Linked DNA regions of Homo sapiens: region 1 is linked to region 2. Evidence: fine-mapped expression QTL. Tissue or cell type: testis. Region 2 holds a variant in brackets; the other region holds the start of a gene. All regions are shown on one strand. Distances are from middle to middle.

Region 1 (8,108 bases), 950 kb before region 2:
TGGTGATTTTGCTGCTTAAAATGGCCTCGAGCACAGTGCTGGAGTGCTGTCTAGCATTCCTAAGCAAAAGAAAGCTGTGATGTGCCTCACAGAGAAAATACATGTGTTAGATAAGTTTTGTTCAGGCAAGAATTACAGTGCTGCAGGCCATGAGTTCTATGTTAATGAATCAACAGTATATATTAAAGAAGGTATCTTTATCAGTTGATGAAAATCTTGTTACCAGAGGCTGTCAGGAACATAACCCTTTATTGTCTCCAGTGTTTGCAGTGACTTTATAGAACATAATTACTGAGGACATCAGAAATCAACTATAAATACTTTTGCAACTAATAGACCTTTGGAACAATTATTTTTGGATTTTGTATAAAGAATCCAAAAAAATCTGGAAAACGTGTGGCTAAGAAAACAGTTGATTGGTCCCTAATTCCACCTTATTATGTTTAAATTCAGTGGGTGTCTCACAGCCACGTTTATAAAGGAATCTTGGCTGGGGTGTCAGGTTTCTAGTTTACTTTGACTCTATCTGTCAGTCTGTGTCCAACCTTCATGGCAATTAACTGTGCTTTTGTGTGCTAATTATCATTATCCCAGTATGGGCCCATTATTAGTCCAATGTCCTTAGTTTAAAGCTTAAGTGTCAATCAGTCACCTAAAACAATTGCATAGAAGGAAGCTTTGCAAGGCTGGTTTGAAAGTCCTTAGCTGAGTTCTACTTTATTATACTCCAGTTCGAAACTGAACACAAAGCTCTTCTTGATACAATTGTTTATTTAAATACTGATTTATCTACTTAATTAAAGCAAACTTGAGTTTATATTTTAAAATCAGGGATGGGATAATTGCTACTTTATGCTTGAAGATCTATTCAGGTAGCTATACATTAAACAAGTAAAACCGTAATTATAAAACCTGCACATTTTTATCTGATTGAGTCGCTCCTGCCATTGAACGACCTTATTCAAGTCATTTAGAACAAAGAAAGGTGGCATATATGAGTTTTTTAAAATCCCACTGGATGCCAGGAGTAAGGAGAAAATAGCATCAAATCAGATGTGGTCAGAAAAGAGGTATTTCTTTTCCTGTGATGCTTTTCCTCTTTCCTCCTCTTACAGTAAATCCCCACTTATCAAATCTTCAGATGTGTAGAGAAGGAATAAGGCAGGGGTAATGGGGGAGTGGGACAGAGAGATGCCCTTTCTGGAGTTTGCACAACGGTTGCATGCTGAGTAAAACCTGATGATGTATTCCATTCATGTCTCCAAAAAGTCAAAAGCGGTTTCAGCGTTGATTTCCCTTAAGAGTTATCAGTCCTCATTCAATTGGTTTAATGAGTGTAAGAGGTGACCTTGTGTCTATGTAGATACTCCCATATTAAAAGACCTGGATGTAAAACTTCACATATGTGTAAATAGTTATTTTGGAGGGTGTTGTGAGGGTTATTGCAGCTCTCTGCTCAGCTGCTACTCAGGCTAAACGGGCAGGAGAAATTTTCCACTGTGTTAGAATGATGATTATTTGCAAATTACATGAGCACCAGTAATTCATTCATGCAATGATACAGAGCTGGGTCTCAGTGCAGTGGTATTGAACTTGCTGCTGGGGGCGTTAATTGATTCGTTTGGAACATTCCCCTCCAGAGAATCCCAATCACAGGTCCCCTGATCAAGAAACGGACACGCAGTCGGGGTCCTGGATATGTAGAGACACACGTGTGAGGCTGTTGTCATCAAAATAAACCATTTCTGTCCCCTGACAGGGGTTGAGTCTATTAGGAACACTCCCCAATCCTGGGAGCTTCCGCAAGAGGCTTTCTATCTTGGCAGAGGTGGCAGCTGAGCATCGCTTCTTTGCTGCAGGATGGAAAAAAGGGACTGGATTATTGGCTGCATTTTAAACTAGCTGCTGTTCTAGAGAAAATGTTGGGGAGGGACTGAACAAGCTTAGCACTGGATCAGTGTGGGGGTGTGTTGGTGAAAAGAAAAAATGCCTCCTCCTAACTTAACGTTTAACTGATATCCCCTCAACACGACCCAAATCTGTCTCTCCAGATACACAATGTCTGTTTTCCTAACTACATGGTGAACTGTGGAGCAAGTCTTGGTCATGTTTAGTTTGTTTCCCAGAATCTACTAGAAGACAATGCCTAGCATATAGCAGGCACAGAATAAGGGCCAAAGGGGAGAATGGAAACAAAATATGTACATTTGAAATTTAGAAACACAGTTAAGGGACTTTGCCTGAAATTGTCATAAAACTTTGAAAATTGCTTCAATGTATAGTCCCAGTGGGAGAATGTGACAGCATATTTTATTCTTTGTTCTTTTCTGAAATTCTGTGTCCAGTCTAAAACACGACATTTCCCTTTAATGTGTTAGGAGTATGCATGACTACACAGGAATATTTTCTGGAGAACTTCTGGTGAAGCATATTTTGATAAACAGTCTTACTAAAAGTTATATATATGTACTTTTAATTGACTAGTTGCAGAGAAATAATCAATGTAAAAAAAAATCATACATAGTACAGGTAGTAAAAGTCACAGTTCCGGCAGAAGCACAAAAGCCTTCAAAGTGAGTGGGAACCTGGGAACCATTGATCCTCAGTGGCTGTTTACCATGGAAAACACCTGCATCACCAACATTCCAGTTTTGCAAAAGTACCTCTATTACAGACACATACCAGGCAAGGAGGGAGGAAAAAGCCTGAAAATTTCTCTCCAAGTTTAAGTAATCAGGAAACTTTGGTGGGGAGGTTGGGGTGGGGTGGGGGCGGGGGGGTAACTTCTTTATTTAGCATTAATCTCAGCAATCATGAAAGTCATGGAATTTCAAGTGATGAAAAATTTGACCACAACAATACCTATCACTAGCCTGGTTTTGCCCACTTCTCGAACAGGAATTATAAAGATAATAATTAATTCTAAAAAGCAGAAGACAAAACAAACAAACCAAACCAACACTGAATGAACTAATAAGGCTGCTGCATATATATGTTGGAGTTGGATGTTTATTTGCTTACTGCAGTAGTTTAAAAATAGTTTTCCAGTTAACATCTTTTCCACATAGTGGAGATGTCAGGGTAGGTTTACATGATTGCGTAAATGGTCAGAAGTTGTTTATGTAGCTCTGAACTGCTGAGAGATGAGCAGGAAGACCTGGGTTCAGCAAAACCCTTGGGGCTTTTTCCCAGAGAGAGAAACAGAGGCTCCTCTCTGGGTTGCTGGAATGCTTTCCAGACGAATTCGACTGGGTTGGCTTTTCTCTGCCTGTCAAAGTCACTTTGCACAGTGCTGGTGAGGGGCTGGGGCATTGCTGCCAATCTCTACGGTTACCCCGAGGTGTGGAGTTGCGGCGAAGGGAGCCACTTCTGCAAGGAAACAGTAGATTCATAATGTAGAATGACCGTGGCAACGTCGTTCAAAGCACATTCTTTCGAATAACAAGGCTTTCGACATGCCCCACCCCCGCGCACAACACACCACAAATTGATCCTTGTACCTAATTTACAGCAACTGTTCCCTCTGACCTCCCCCCGCCCCCGCCCCACATTCCAACCTGAAAGCACTTTGCGTGGATGAGACTTCAGGTGTGTAACGCAGCCTGTCCAGCCAGTGTCCTCCGCCTAAGGACAGGCAGGTAAAAACCTACCAAAGCCCCCTCTTCTGGCCTAAGTTCAATGCCACCCGCCCACCCACATTCCCCGGTTCAGCAATTTTCAGCCCAGACGCAGAAGCATCTGTTTCCCTGGCCAGGGCGCCTTAACGATCCCCCGAATTCCGCGTCTCCCGGAGGCCAGAGGTTTGGGTACCCAGGAAGGTCGCGCCTCCTCGTGCCCCGATACTCGGGTTGTAAAGGGAGGAGACATCGCCTCGGCGCATCCCTGGCCGCTGAACAACGCAACCCCTACGTCCCCGCACGGGAATCCGGCTGATAATCTCCTCTTGCCTGAGAATCGGGCCAGGCGCCCTTTACTAATTTCGCGCGCTGGGGACCTGGGGCTGCCGCCTCTCGGCCGCGCGGGGCAGGTGCTGCGTCCCCAGCGCTCGCCTCCTCCGGCCGCGCACTGAGCATGCGCGGGCTCCGGGCCTCCGGCGCGTCTCCCCGTCCCCGCTCGTCTCCCGCCCGTTCCCACCCGCCCGCGCCTCTCCCCTTCCCCGAGCGTCTCCCCCGCCCCGCGGCTAAGGAGCCGGCAGCCCGAACTCCGGCGCGCCAGGTTTTTCCAGCCGCCGCGAGCGCCGGGAGGGAGGGCAGCGCCGCGCCAGACGGAGCCCGGGGTTCGACGCCAGGATTGGCTGCAAGTAGGGAGCTTTCGCCGCCGCCCCGGGCCCCTCGGACTGTGCCGGCGCCGCACCCGAGGCTCTCGCCAGCCCGGCGCCCCGGTGCTGAGGTAAGTGAGGCGGCAGCTGTGCGGGTCCGGCTCCTGCGTGGGCGCGCGATGCCCCGGGGACGCGGTCGCGGGTGTGGGGGGGAAAGGGCAGGGTCCGCGCGGGTTGCCCGAAGGACAGGGGCGCTTCCCGGGGCTCTGACTCCCGCGGGGCCGGGCAGCGTCTGCGGGGCCGTCCAGCTCAGAGCCCGGAAGCCCTGCAGGGTCGGGGAGCGGGAGCTGAACGCCTGAGCGCGGAGGACTCAGGGCCCCGACGACGCCACCGTCACCCCACAGCGACCCTTCTTCTCCTTCTCAGCCGGAAAATAAGTTTGTTGCGCTGCGAGGCAGCCACAAAACAAGGAACCGAGAGCCCGGAATGCTGCGGGAAGCCTTCAAGTCAGCTCCTCCGACTGGTTCGGGCTACTGCCCCCTCTCCGTGCGCCCTGGCCTCTGGCGCCGGGTTCCCGGCGGGGCTTTTCTTCTGACAGCCCAGTCACAGCCCGCAGCAGAGGGACGCGAACCTGGGGAGTGGAGGGACCTGGGACTAAAGGAACAGGAGCCCGTAGCCGTGGTGGAAGGAGCCGCGTGGAGACGGAGGCTGATGTCTGTGGCGCCCGCTGGGTGCCGGGCTGGCTGCTGAGCGCTGAGGCTGCGGCGGCGAGCGACAGGCCAGGTGCCTGCTCTTAGGGAAGGTACCTGGCTTCCCCAGTCTCTGCCGCGGGAGCCTGTTGGGTGGCATTCGTTTCCAGCAACTTCTGGGGGGTTTCCAGTTTCTTTCGAGAGGCAAGACAACCGCCCCGTCCCCTCCCCGGGCCCAGACGGCGGCGAACTGTGCGCCGGGCGCCCCACAGACCCCAATCCACTCACTCTCCTTCTGGAACGCGGGGCTCAAAATCTTCGTGCATTTTCTCTCTTGTGCTTCGTGTATATGTTTTACTATTTATGAAGGGTGTGGAGGTGAGGGTAGGAGGACGTGGGCTCCTGAATCCCTCTGAACCAGCCAGAGAGTCGGCTGCATGGAAACATTTCGCAGCGAAGCTCCTGCGAGGAGGCGGCTTCGCGCGTCGGGAAGATCAGGCGGTTGCTTGCTGGCCAGGGTCTGCAGATTCGGTGCGAAGAAGCTGGCGGAGGTTGTGTAGGGCGAGTCAGTGTGACTGAGCACCCTGGGTGTGTGGTCTGCGTGGAGGAGAGTGGGCCGGATCTTGAGGTGTGTTGGAGGTTTATTTGTAAGAGGAGTTCCTGAAAGGAATGTCGTGGAACTTTTTCTAGTTTTCCTGCTGGAATCAACATAGGGGCGGGCACATGTTTGTCAGAATAACAGTGGCATTTAACTGCATGGGAAGCTCTTTCAATTTTCTGTAGTGGGAGCTGGATAGTTCAAGGAGTAACTCCACATAACTGAGTCGTTTGGATACCCACACAAGATAATTTGGAACGCGCTTGTATTTTTTTGTTTTTTGAGATTTCTGGTTTATGTCCTTTAGAGAGTGGGGTAGGAGCGTAAAGACTGTATAGGTTGCCTATGAGCAGGTCCATACAATAGCGTTCCCAAGTCTGCCTAATAGCAAGTTTGTTCTCTCTTTCTCTCTCTCTACCCAAGTGGGTGAAAAAGAACAGTGTGTCATGAAGACAGGCACCTGGAGGTGATTTGGGTGGCATTCATGAGAAAATTCACGTTACCCGTAAGTTTATTCTTGCTATTTTTATCTTGATTTCTTTAAAGATTTTGTGGGAATATCTGCAGTGGGTCGCAGGAGTAGGTAAGATTGCTAAGGATCAAAAACAAGTTTCATGAGAATATTATTTTTGCTACCTTATAAAATAGCTATTGATTTGTTTGTTGAAGCTGGTTTCAACTGCTCTGTCTTGTTGAGGAGAGATGATGCTGATAAACGTCATTATTTTTCCATCTGAACCCTGGGAGGTAGCTGGCAAGGATGGAAAAACTGACCTTTTCAATTAAAGACTAAGAGTCTAAGAGAAGTGACTTGGATAAGGGTGCATGTCAGAGCCACATGTAAGTTTCAACAGAGGTAGATTTTCCTATTTGCAGTTTTTTAAACAACACTTTTCAGTTTCTTTGAGTTGTAAAACTTTTCAAGTCAATTGGGAGTCAATGCAGTACCTTTTTCCATGGTCATTTCATATTGGCAGGTAATTAAGAGTGATTAGAGAACAAACCTTTCAAATGATGTTGGATTTTTTATCATTCACTTATTTTACCTACTTCTCTCTCCTTTTTGTTCAAAAGTAGGTCTTCTGATTTCTTTTCCGATCTAAGCACTAAATCTTTTGGCTGCAGTTTTTCTTCTGAAATGTATACAGGGCATCCGTTCCTTCAATTTAGGTCTTAAAAAAATAAAGCTGCTCAGCAGAAAATTCCCATGCATGGTACTGACTTTTCTACAAGTTTGTCTGATCATGATTTTAACTTGTTGTTTCTTCTTTGTTATATTTGAGGACAGACATAATATGCATTAGCTTCAATCTCTCTTATCTTAAAAATTAATATTTTGTAAAAACTTGCTTTTATATTATTTTAGTTGAATAAGTCTATTTCATATGATAGGCAGGGGGAAGTCTCTACACACTGATTTTTTTTGTTCCTTTTTGTTCATTTTTCCCTGTAATGCTATGTTTTAAGCCTAGTGAAGGAGGCAAGGAGGCAGGATTTACTGCCTAGATTTATTGATCTTCATTATTATTATTATTTACTATCAGAAGAAATCTGACAACATATCAATAAAATTTATTTATAAACTGAAGACATGCTGTTATATGATACACTACTTATAAAACACACAAAGAAACAAAAAAGATGAATAAAGCAAAAATTATGAAATAGAAGGTCTCATGTTGCTGTTATGTATCCCGGTGGATCATTTTGTACAGCCCCTGGGGTGTGTAGCACACTTTAAAGATCACTGCTGGTTTGATATTTTTAAAATCTTTCTCTCCTTATCTCTGCTCTGCTGTTCATCATCTCTGATACTCTAGCCAGTTGTAAAACTGCTACACTTCTATATCTTCTGTAACAAATAGATTAAGCACACTTGTTTTCCTCTCATGGACTCATATGTGGATAGAATGAGGTGTAAAGGATGAATGTGTTTTGGAGATGTCATCTTAGATCTCCCAAAGTAGACATACAGGTGAATTTTAAAAAATGGAGTTTTAGTTTAAAGACTAAGTACCAATGGTCAGGAAGTGAAGAATCCAAGGAGTAAATGAGGGAGGATTGGAAGGACACTTTCCACATTGCAGTGTTGTGTGGAGGCTGGAAAGTTCATAAACCTTGAAGCAGATTAACCTGAATCTAAGTCTGGCACCATCATTTATTACATTTACAGTCCTGGGCAATGTAGTTCCTTAATTTCTGTGAGCCTTAGTTTCTTTAGGTATAAAATTGGGATAACATCTATTTCACGGCATCACGATAGGGATTAAACATGAGAGCATGAGTCAACATGGGTCAAGAGCTTGGCTCTTTTAGATTGGCTCTTTAGCAGATATAACAGATCCAAAAGGGATACTGCCTCAGATGTGAAATATATTTATTTCTCGGTTGTGTGAAGTCCCAGAATGGGTGATCATGGCAGTACTCCTTCAAAGTGTGATTCAGAGACCCAGCCTTCATCTGTTCTGTGCCCTTGCCGTCTTCAGCAGGGTCACTGTGCTTACTTGCATCAAGCCATTGGAAAGAGGAAGACTTGGGAGGATGTTAATTGCCCAGAACTGGA
Region 2 (8,108 bases):
CACCCCAAATCAACAGAATATACATTCTTCTCAGCACCACATCGCACTTATTCCATAATTGACCTCATAGGTGGAAGTAAAGCACTCCTCAGCAAATGTAAAAGAATAGAAATTACAACAAACTGTCTCTCAGACCACAGTGCGATCAAACTAGAACTCAGGATTAAGAAACTCACTCAAAACCGCTCAACTACATGGCAACTGAACAACCCGCTCCTGAATGACTACTGGGTACATAACGAAATGAAGGCAGAAATAAAGATGTTCTTTGAAACCAACGAGAACAAAGACACAACATACCAGAATCTCTGGGACACATTCAAAGCAGTGTGTAGAGGGAAATTTATAGCACTAAATGCCCACAAGAGAAAGCAGGAAAGATCTAAAATTGACACCCTAACATCACAATTAAAAGAACTAGAGAAGCAAGAGCAAACACATTCAAAAGCTAGCAGAAGGCAAGAAATAACTAAGATCAGAGCAGAACTGAAGGAGATAGAGACACAAAAAACCATTCAAAAAATCAGTGAATCCAGGAGCTGGTTTTTTGAAAAGATCAACAAAATTGATAGACTGCTAGCAAGACTAATAAAGAAGAAAAGAGAGAAGAATCAAATAGATGCAATAAAAAATGATCAAGGGGATATCACCACCCTTGAGAGTGGGTAACAGGGTTAGACCAGATGGTAGGAAAGGACACTTTCTGAGTTCTTCTTAATTTCCAGCTCAGTCACTCCCCCTTCTTTTTAGGAGTGGTACTGGAAGAGCCAGACACCCTACACCTCCTCAACTACACCCCAAGGAAGGTCACTGTAACTGGCTATACATTTTGAATTGCTACATATACATGTGAATGTTTAGAGATACATAATTTAAAGCTACAGGTATCCACAGGTTCCATACTCTCAAATGTGGATCAAAAATATTCAGGAAAAAAAACACACAAAAAAATACAATGAAAATGACACAGATTTTAAAAACAATACAGTATAACAACTATTTACATACCATTTACATTATATTAGGTATTATGAGTAATCTAAAGTTGATTTAAAGTATACGGAAAGATATGCTTAGGTTATACACAAATTCTATACCATTGTATATCCAGGACTTGAGTATCCACAGATTTTGGTATTTTAGGGAGGTCCTGAAGCCAGTTCCCTGAATTACCAAGGTACCAATGAATAACTCTCTCTCTTTCTCTCTCTCTCTCTGTGTGTGTGTGTGTGTGTGTGTGTGTGTATTTGTGTGTGTGTATGTGTGGTACCTCCCGTGATATCTCACGTCCCATGATAGCTCAGGAAACTCTCCCTAGTGTCACTTTTAGGGTGAGATTAGAGGCTGAATAAAAAGCGGATCTGATTGCAACGGAAGAGTTGACCTTTGCTAGAGAATTTGACCCATTAAATATGGCTATTGTTTATCTCAGACTGACCCTTTCCAAAATTAAGTTTTCCTCCCAAATACTGAACATGTTGGGGTGTGGGTTTATTTTCCCTTCTTCACTAAGTTGTCTGAATTCTTTAGATCTCAGCTTAGGTAGACAGTCTCAACAAGAAGCTGACTTTAGAAAGTTTAAGGCCCCAAATATTTTGTCAACACAAATCCTTAAGCTACTTTATGGCATTAGAGCTAAAAGGAGAGCATCTGGTTTTAGTATCACAAATTAAACTACCTGCAGGGCCAGGCAGATAACATAAATGAGTTCTGTTCAGTCCATTCAGAAACTACTACTAATACGTCTACTAAGCACTGTTCCAATTCATCTTAACTTTATATTTTATTTTGTTGTATTTTGAGACAGAGTCTCCCTCTGTCACGCAAGGTGGAGTGTAGTGGTACAATCTTGGCTCACTGCAACCTCCGCCTCCAGGGTTCAAGCAGTTCTCCTGCCTCAGCCTCCCAAGTAGCTGAGACTACAGGCGCCCACCACCACGACTGGCTGATTTTTGTATTTTTAGTAGAGATGGAGTTTCACCATGTTGGCCAGGCTGGTCTTAAACTCCTGACCTCAGGTGATCCGCCTGCCTCAGCCTCCCAAAGTGCTGGGATTACAGGCATGAGCCACCATGCCTGGCCTCATCTTAACTGTATAATAACCATGAAGATAGGTACAGTTATTATTGCTAGTTTTACGGATGAAGAGCTGTGGCATAGAGTTTAGTCACTTGCCTTTCACACAGCTGGTATGTTGAAGACCTGGGATCCGAATACAGCAGTATGGATCCTGAGTTCTACATTTAGCCACTTGGTGCTTCTGCCTACCAGCCATAAATAAATAGAATAAGTGATAACAAAGTACTGCAGAGAAAAAGAGGCTAGAGTGAGGGGAATAGAGAAAGCCATGGAGTGGACAGGAGAGATGTATTATTTTATAGAAAGGCCAAGGAAAGCCACTTTTAAGTGGTGAGATTTCAGTTGGGCCTTGGCACCTCTCTGGGAATGTCCCAAGTACTGCAAAAAAGGAAGTGCAAAGGTCCAGAGGTAGGCATGTGACAATGTAGCAACATTGGAAGTGTTGGGACTATCACCAACTGCAGAGTTTGTGATTGTTCAGAATGAGACTTCTCAACTCCAACCAGTTGTTGGCAGACAGGAATATAGATCACTGGCTTAGTCTATTTTATTCTGGATCGCACTTTTGTAGAGTCTTACTCAGGAACAGAATACCTGAGACTGGGCAATTAATATGAACAGAAGTTTATTGACACCCAGTGCTGGGAGGGAGAGGGATAGAGAGCTGACTCGCCCTTTTACAACAGTGCTAATTCCATCTGTGAGGGTGAGCCTAATCACCTCATGGCCTAATTATCTCTTCAAGGTTCACCTGTTAATACAGTTAAAATGGCGAATTTCAACATGAGTTTTGGAGAGGACAAGCATCCAAAGCATAGCAACCAGTGTGGCCATATCTTCCAGTTTTTCAGTAGAACCCACAAATTTTTAATGTCTAATTTCTCGGTTTTTAAATGTTCATGTCTAACTCAAAAAAAATAACACTATGACAGCCAAACAAATAATATATGCAGGCTGGTTATGACCCATGGGCCACTAGTTTTTTGCTGTCTAACTCCCTTGGTTTGTGTTCCCAAAGACAGATGCCAGAGAGGGAAAGCAATTTGCCCAGAGCCCTACAGGTGGTAGCCAAGGTAGTCTTCGTTAAAAATCCAGGTTCTGAGGCCGGGCACGGTGGCTCACACCTGTAATCCCAGCACTTTGGGAGGCCGAGGTGGGTGGATCACCTGAGGTCAGGAGTTTGAGACCAGCCTGACCAACATGGTGAAACCCCGTCTCTGCTAAAAATATAAAATCAGCAGGGCATGGTGGCGCATGCCTGTAATGTTAGCTACTTGGGAGGCTGAGGCAGAAGAATTGCTTGAACCCGGGAGGCGGAGGTTGTAGTGAGCTGAGGTCACACCATCGCACTCTAGCCTGGGCAATAAGAGTGAAACTCCGTCTCAAAAAAAAAAAAAAAAAAAATCCAGGCTCTGGAGCCAGACTGCCTAGGTTTGAATGCAGGATCCGCCACTTACCAGTCATGAGACCGGGCAATTGCTTCACATCTCCACATCTCAAGTTCTCATCTTTGAAATCAGAATAATAACATTGCCTTCCTTAAGAGGTTATCCACATAAGCATTTAGAACAAGCTTGTACAGCCCACAGCCCACAGGCTACATGTGGCCCAAGATGGCTTTGAATGTGGCCCAACACAAATTCATAAACTTTCTTAAAACATCGTAAGATGTTTTTTGCAATTTTTTAAAAGTTCATCAGCTATCATTAGTGTTAGTGTATTTTATGTGTGGCCCAAGACAATTTTTCTTCTTCCAGTGTGGTCCAGGGAAGCCAAAAGATTGGACACCCCTGATTTAGAACACACAGTGTTCAGACATTAAATAGTGGAAGTAGTCTATAATATTTGCTATTATCATTATTCCCACAAATCCATTCTTTCCCCTTGTCTTCCACCCTAGATTATATCAAATGCAAGCACAGCCTTCAATCAGCTCAAGCAAGTGTTTGGTGTAAATAAAGGCTTTACAGGACTTTATTTGGGTTCTGCTGCAGTCCATAATACTGCAAGACTGATAAGCAGTGCTGATAAAAGTGCTGCTTTTTCCTGGAAGTGTTTCTTTTGGATTTATATTTGAAACAAGTTGAATCCTCTGAGCTCTTGCAAGGACCAGAGGTAAATCAAAGCAGCAATTTATTCCTCAAAGCCAGATGTGACCTTGCATCCCATCAGCCCATTCTCCTGGAGGGCCGTGATGAGAAGCTTTGACACTC[C/T]TGAATGTGCCTGAGGATTTATCTGTGCCTAATCATCAGCAAGGGGATGCTGGGTCTGATACAACTGATGCTGCGGAGAAGAAGGGGACACTTATGAATCTTTCTACCTTAAGGAAATTGTGTTTTCCACCTTGTGTTAGAGAGATATAAATTAAGGTGATGAAATGCCAGGGAACAGATGGGTTCTAAACCATTCTAAAGGAATTTTATGAATTTCACTTGTGTCTGGTTTTGTCTTGAGACACAAGAGTGACCTTATGTCTGTAGCCTCAGCAGATCAGAATTTATAAGGGATCTTAGGGAAGGATGAGCTAATCTCGTGCTTCTCAACGCATGATCCCTGGACCATCAGCACTGGCATTAGCTGGGAACTTGTCAGAAATGCAGATTTTCAGGTCCCATCCCAGAACTAATCACAAACTCCAGGAATGGGGCCCAGCAATTTGTGTTCTAACAAGTTCTCCAGGTGATTCTGTTCACGCTTGAATTTGAGAACTACGCGTCTAATTCATCTAATCATGATGCCTATCCCATATTAACATCTCCTGATGATCTTTTAGAAAACAACTACAGCATGGATCCCACCTCTGTGCAGTCTTAGGCAGGCTAGAGTGGAACTGGAGCGGGGTTACTGACCTCCTCACAGTCAACACTTTGAGCTAGAGAGTTCTTTGTTGCGGGGCTGCTCTGTGCATTGTAGACTGTTCAGCAGCATCCCTGGTCTCTCTATCCACTACAACAGGAGGACATGTTTTGACAAACATGTCTGCAGACATTGCCAGATACCTCCCTGTGAGGCAAAATTGCTCCCCTGCCCCTCCCACCCTGTTGAAAACCACTGAGCTACAGCATAAGTATTTTACAAGCACCCCAATGGTTCTAACATGCAGCCAGGACCAAAAACCACTGACCTCATCCAACCCTATCTTTTTGTCAGGGGAAACTACAGAGGATGAGCTTTAGTGGTTCTATAGGTAAAGGCACACTTTCCCAGACCTGTATATTTTGTTCCTGATTGGAGTAAATCCAATCACAGCAGGCAATCCCAGGTAAGTGAATGTGTTTTTAGGAGGCTAGTTGGCCACCTCATCAAATGAATCCACCTCCAAACTCAGAACCCATGGGGGGCCCAAGATGAAAACAGGACTGTTGCAAGCTGCAGATATGTCCAGGGTGACAATGGTTGCCTCTTGGCTACCTAGCCCCATAAAGTGGGGTTCCAGAGGAAAGGAATGGGAGGTTACTACTCTTGCCTTTCCGATATCTTCTCCCTGTGCTGAAATGTCCTGTCTCTAAGAGTCGTGATCATAACTTATTGTGCCTGGCTTGTGCTCTAACCTTTGCCATGTATGTTCTCTGATTATCTTTAAGCCTTCAGAGATACTATTTCTTACATGCTTCCTCTAAGCTAGGCCATCACCAGATTCAAACCTTGTGCAATCTTTTGTATTTTTATATTTTTGAGACAGTCTTGCTCTGTCACCCAGGCTGGAGTGCAGTGGCTTGATCTCGGCTCACTGCAACGTCTGCCTCCCGGGTGCAAGCAATTCTCCTGCCTCAGCCTCTGGAGTAGCTGGGATTACAGGTGTGTGCCATCATGTCTGGCTAATTTTTGTATTTTTTGTAGAGACAGGGTTTCGCCATGTTGGTCAGGCTGGTCTCAAACTCCTGGCCTCAAGTGAGTCACCCACCTTGGCCTCCCAAAGTGCTGACACTATAGGCATGGGCCACTGCACCCAGCCTCCTTGTGCAATCTTGAAAACACACTCCAGAAGACTGGGTATTATTGTCCCCCTTTTACAGATGACTGAAGTGAGGCTCTGAAAGGTGAAGTGGCCTGTGATCCCACAGTGGCCAAGTTTATTCTGATGCCAAAGCACCGATGTGTAACTGAGCACTGTACATCCTTAAGGAGCTACTCATATTTTCCACTTTCCCAAGAGTGTCAACTGAGCCTCCGAGAGGCTAGGCAGTAGGTAGAATCACGTTGCTGATGCCCCTGATATAATATCCTTTCAGCTCTTTCCTTGGAATAAAATGGTAGCTGCAGTCATGGCCCTCACTGCAAATGAGCCTTCCAAATGCAAGTGGGCAGCCAGACAACCTCTACATCCCTGCATTTTGCTCGTGCCCAGAGGTGAAAACAAATGAATGCTCCATATTTGGGACCTTTGTGAAGACGGCAGGTGACACCTGTTCTTTCTGTATTGGCAGGTCTTGTACAGATGGAACAGACAAAGCAGCACATCTGTCATTGAAACAAATAAAACATCGGTGGAGCTTTCTTTGCCTTTCGATGAAGATTATATAATAGAAATTAAGCCATTCAGCGACGGAGGAGATGGCAGCAGCAGTGAACAAATTCGAATTCCAAAGATATCAAGTGAGAATGCCTTTTTTTCTCCCTTTTCTCCTGCCTGTCTTATCTTATCAGCCTTCCAGATGAGTCAGGGCTTGAAAGACATTCAGCCTGCAAAAGCAGACTTAAAATAGAAATGGAGAACACTACCCCCCTTCTCCAGATGTTTGCTGGCCATAGGCAGTTTCATGCAAAAATCAGTTTGCCCGTGTTGACTGATCTACTCAGTTGCTAATCAAAAATCAGATTAAAGCAGACCCGAATTAGTCACTAAGGTTTTTCCGTGTCAACCTGTGTAGTTTGCATTGCATCTATTGTAGCCCCAGAATTACAGTTTAGAAAGTGAAAAGCATTGACTCAGTCAGAAGGAACAAGGACAAGCATTGTTAAGTATGCCGTAGCAGTTTTTCTCCAGTGAAACAGTGTATGCAGTTCAGTATCTTGGAAATATTTGGAATTTACTACTTATTTTCAATGGGTATATGCAACATGTGCATCAATGTGTATGTCTCTCTATAGTCAAGATTATCTTCACTTTCAAATGTTGTTGAATAGCATGGGAGAATAGCATATTCTTTTTGAGCAAATACATTCAATTCTGTTTTTACAAATACCATGTTTGTAAGTATCTTAAGAGCATGATTTTTTTGTTGTTGTGTGTGATCTCATTTATTTAAAGAAAAAAAACAAAATAGCCAAATCCGTGGAGACAGAAGTGAGGCTAGTGATTGGCAGTGGCTGGTCAGTGGGGAATGGGGGTTTAGGCACTGGGTCTTCATTTGGGGTGACACAAAAGTTATGGAGCTTGAGAGTGGTGCTGGTTGCACAACACTGGAGTATACTTAGTACCACTGATTTGTACATTTTAAATGAGTTAAAATGCTAATTTTGTTATGTGTATTTTACAGCAATAAAAAAAAGACTGTGGTTAGATATCTAAGTGTAGACTTTCACAGGCTTTCAGATTTCAGTCTGGAGATTAGGGGAGCAGTGAAGGCTGGAGGTATAAATTTTCAAGACATTGGTAAAAAGATGATATTTTAAATTATGGACAAAATCCTCACCACCATCCTGACTTTTAGCCATGTGACATCCCTCTGCTAAGGGGTGATATGCCAGTGTTTCTGGATGGAGTTTATATTTACTGCATCTTTTTTGCATACAAACACAAAAGGCATTTTTGTCTTAAAAGGGGGACAATTGGATTATACTTTATCAAACAAAGCCTCTAACTTCTATCGAAAGGGAGCTAGATTTTTGGTGAGATGTGGAAGTAAAATCTCCAGGCCACAAAAATACAAGATTGGGGCTTATCTCGCTTCATTAAAAATCTGACTTTATACTTCATACTTTCTTATCATTGCAGGGATTGACATTTTTAGATAGACTGATGATTCCTGGTTTTATTCATTACAAAAACATATATTAAGCAATTATATTGGTGTAATTATTAGATA

The links. PIP is the estimated chance that this variant, and not a neighbour inherited with it, causes the effect.
Region 1: it holds the start of CNTN4, and the variant in region 2 is fine-mapped to the expression of CNTN4 in testis (GTEx, PIP above 0.99).

The regions. Positions count from the first base shown.
Region 1 is chr3:2,094,590-2,102,697 of GRCh38, forward strand. CNTN4 (contactin 4) reads left to right here and starts at 4,277. Exons shown (of 25, transcript NM_175607.3): 1 at 4,277-4,389; 2 at 5,969-6,050. It overlaps LOC124909338 (a long non-coding RNA gene), which reads right to left and starts at 3,666. Exons shown (of 2, transcript XR_007095785.1): 1 at 3,558-3,666; 2 at 2,992-3,369. RefSeq lists an enhancer at 233-840.
Region 2 is chr3:3,047,301-3,055,408 of GRCh38, forward strand. It overlaps CNTN4 (contactin 4), which reads left to right. Exons shown (of 25, transcript NM_175607.3): 24 at 6,507-6,675. All of the region lies in intron 1 of CNTN4-AS1 (CNTN4 antisense RNA 1), which reads right to left. Among named protein-coding and RNA genes, the nearest start is that of CNTN4-AS1, 9.8 kb to the right of the region's middle. The variant C/T (reference allele first, on the strand shown) is at 4,293.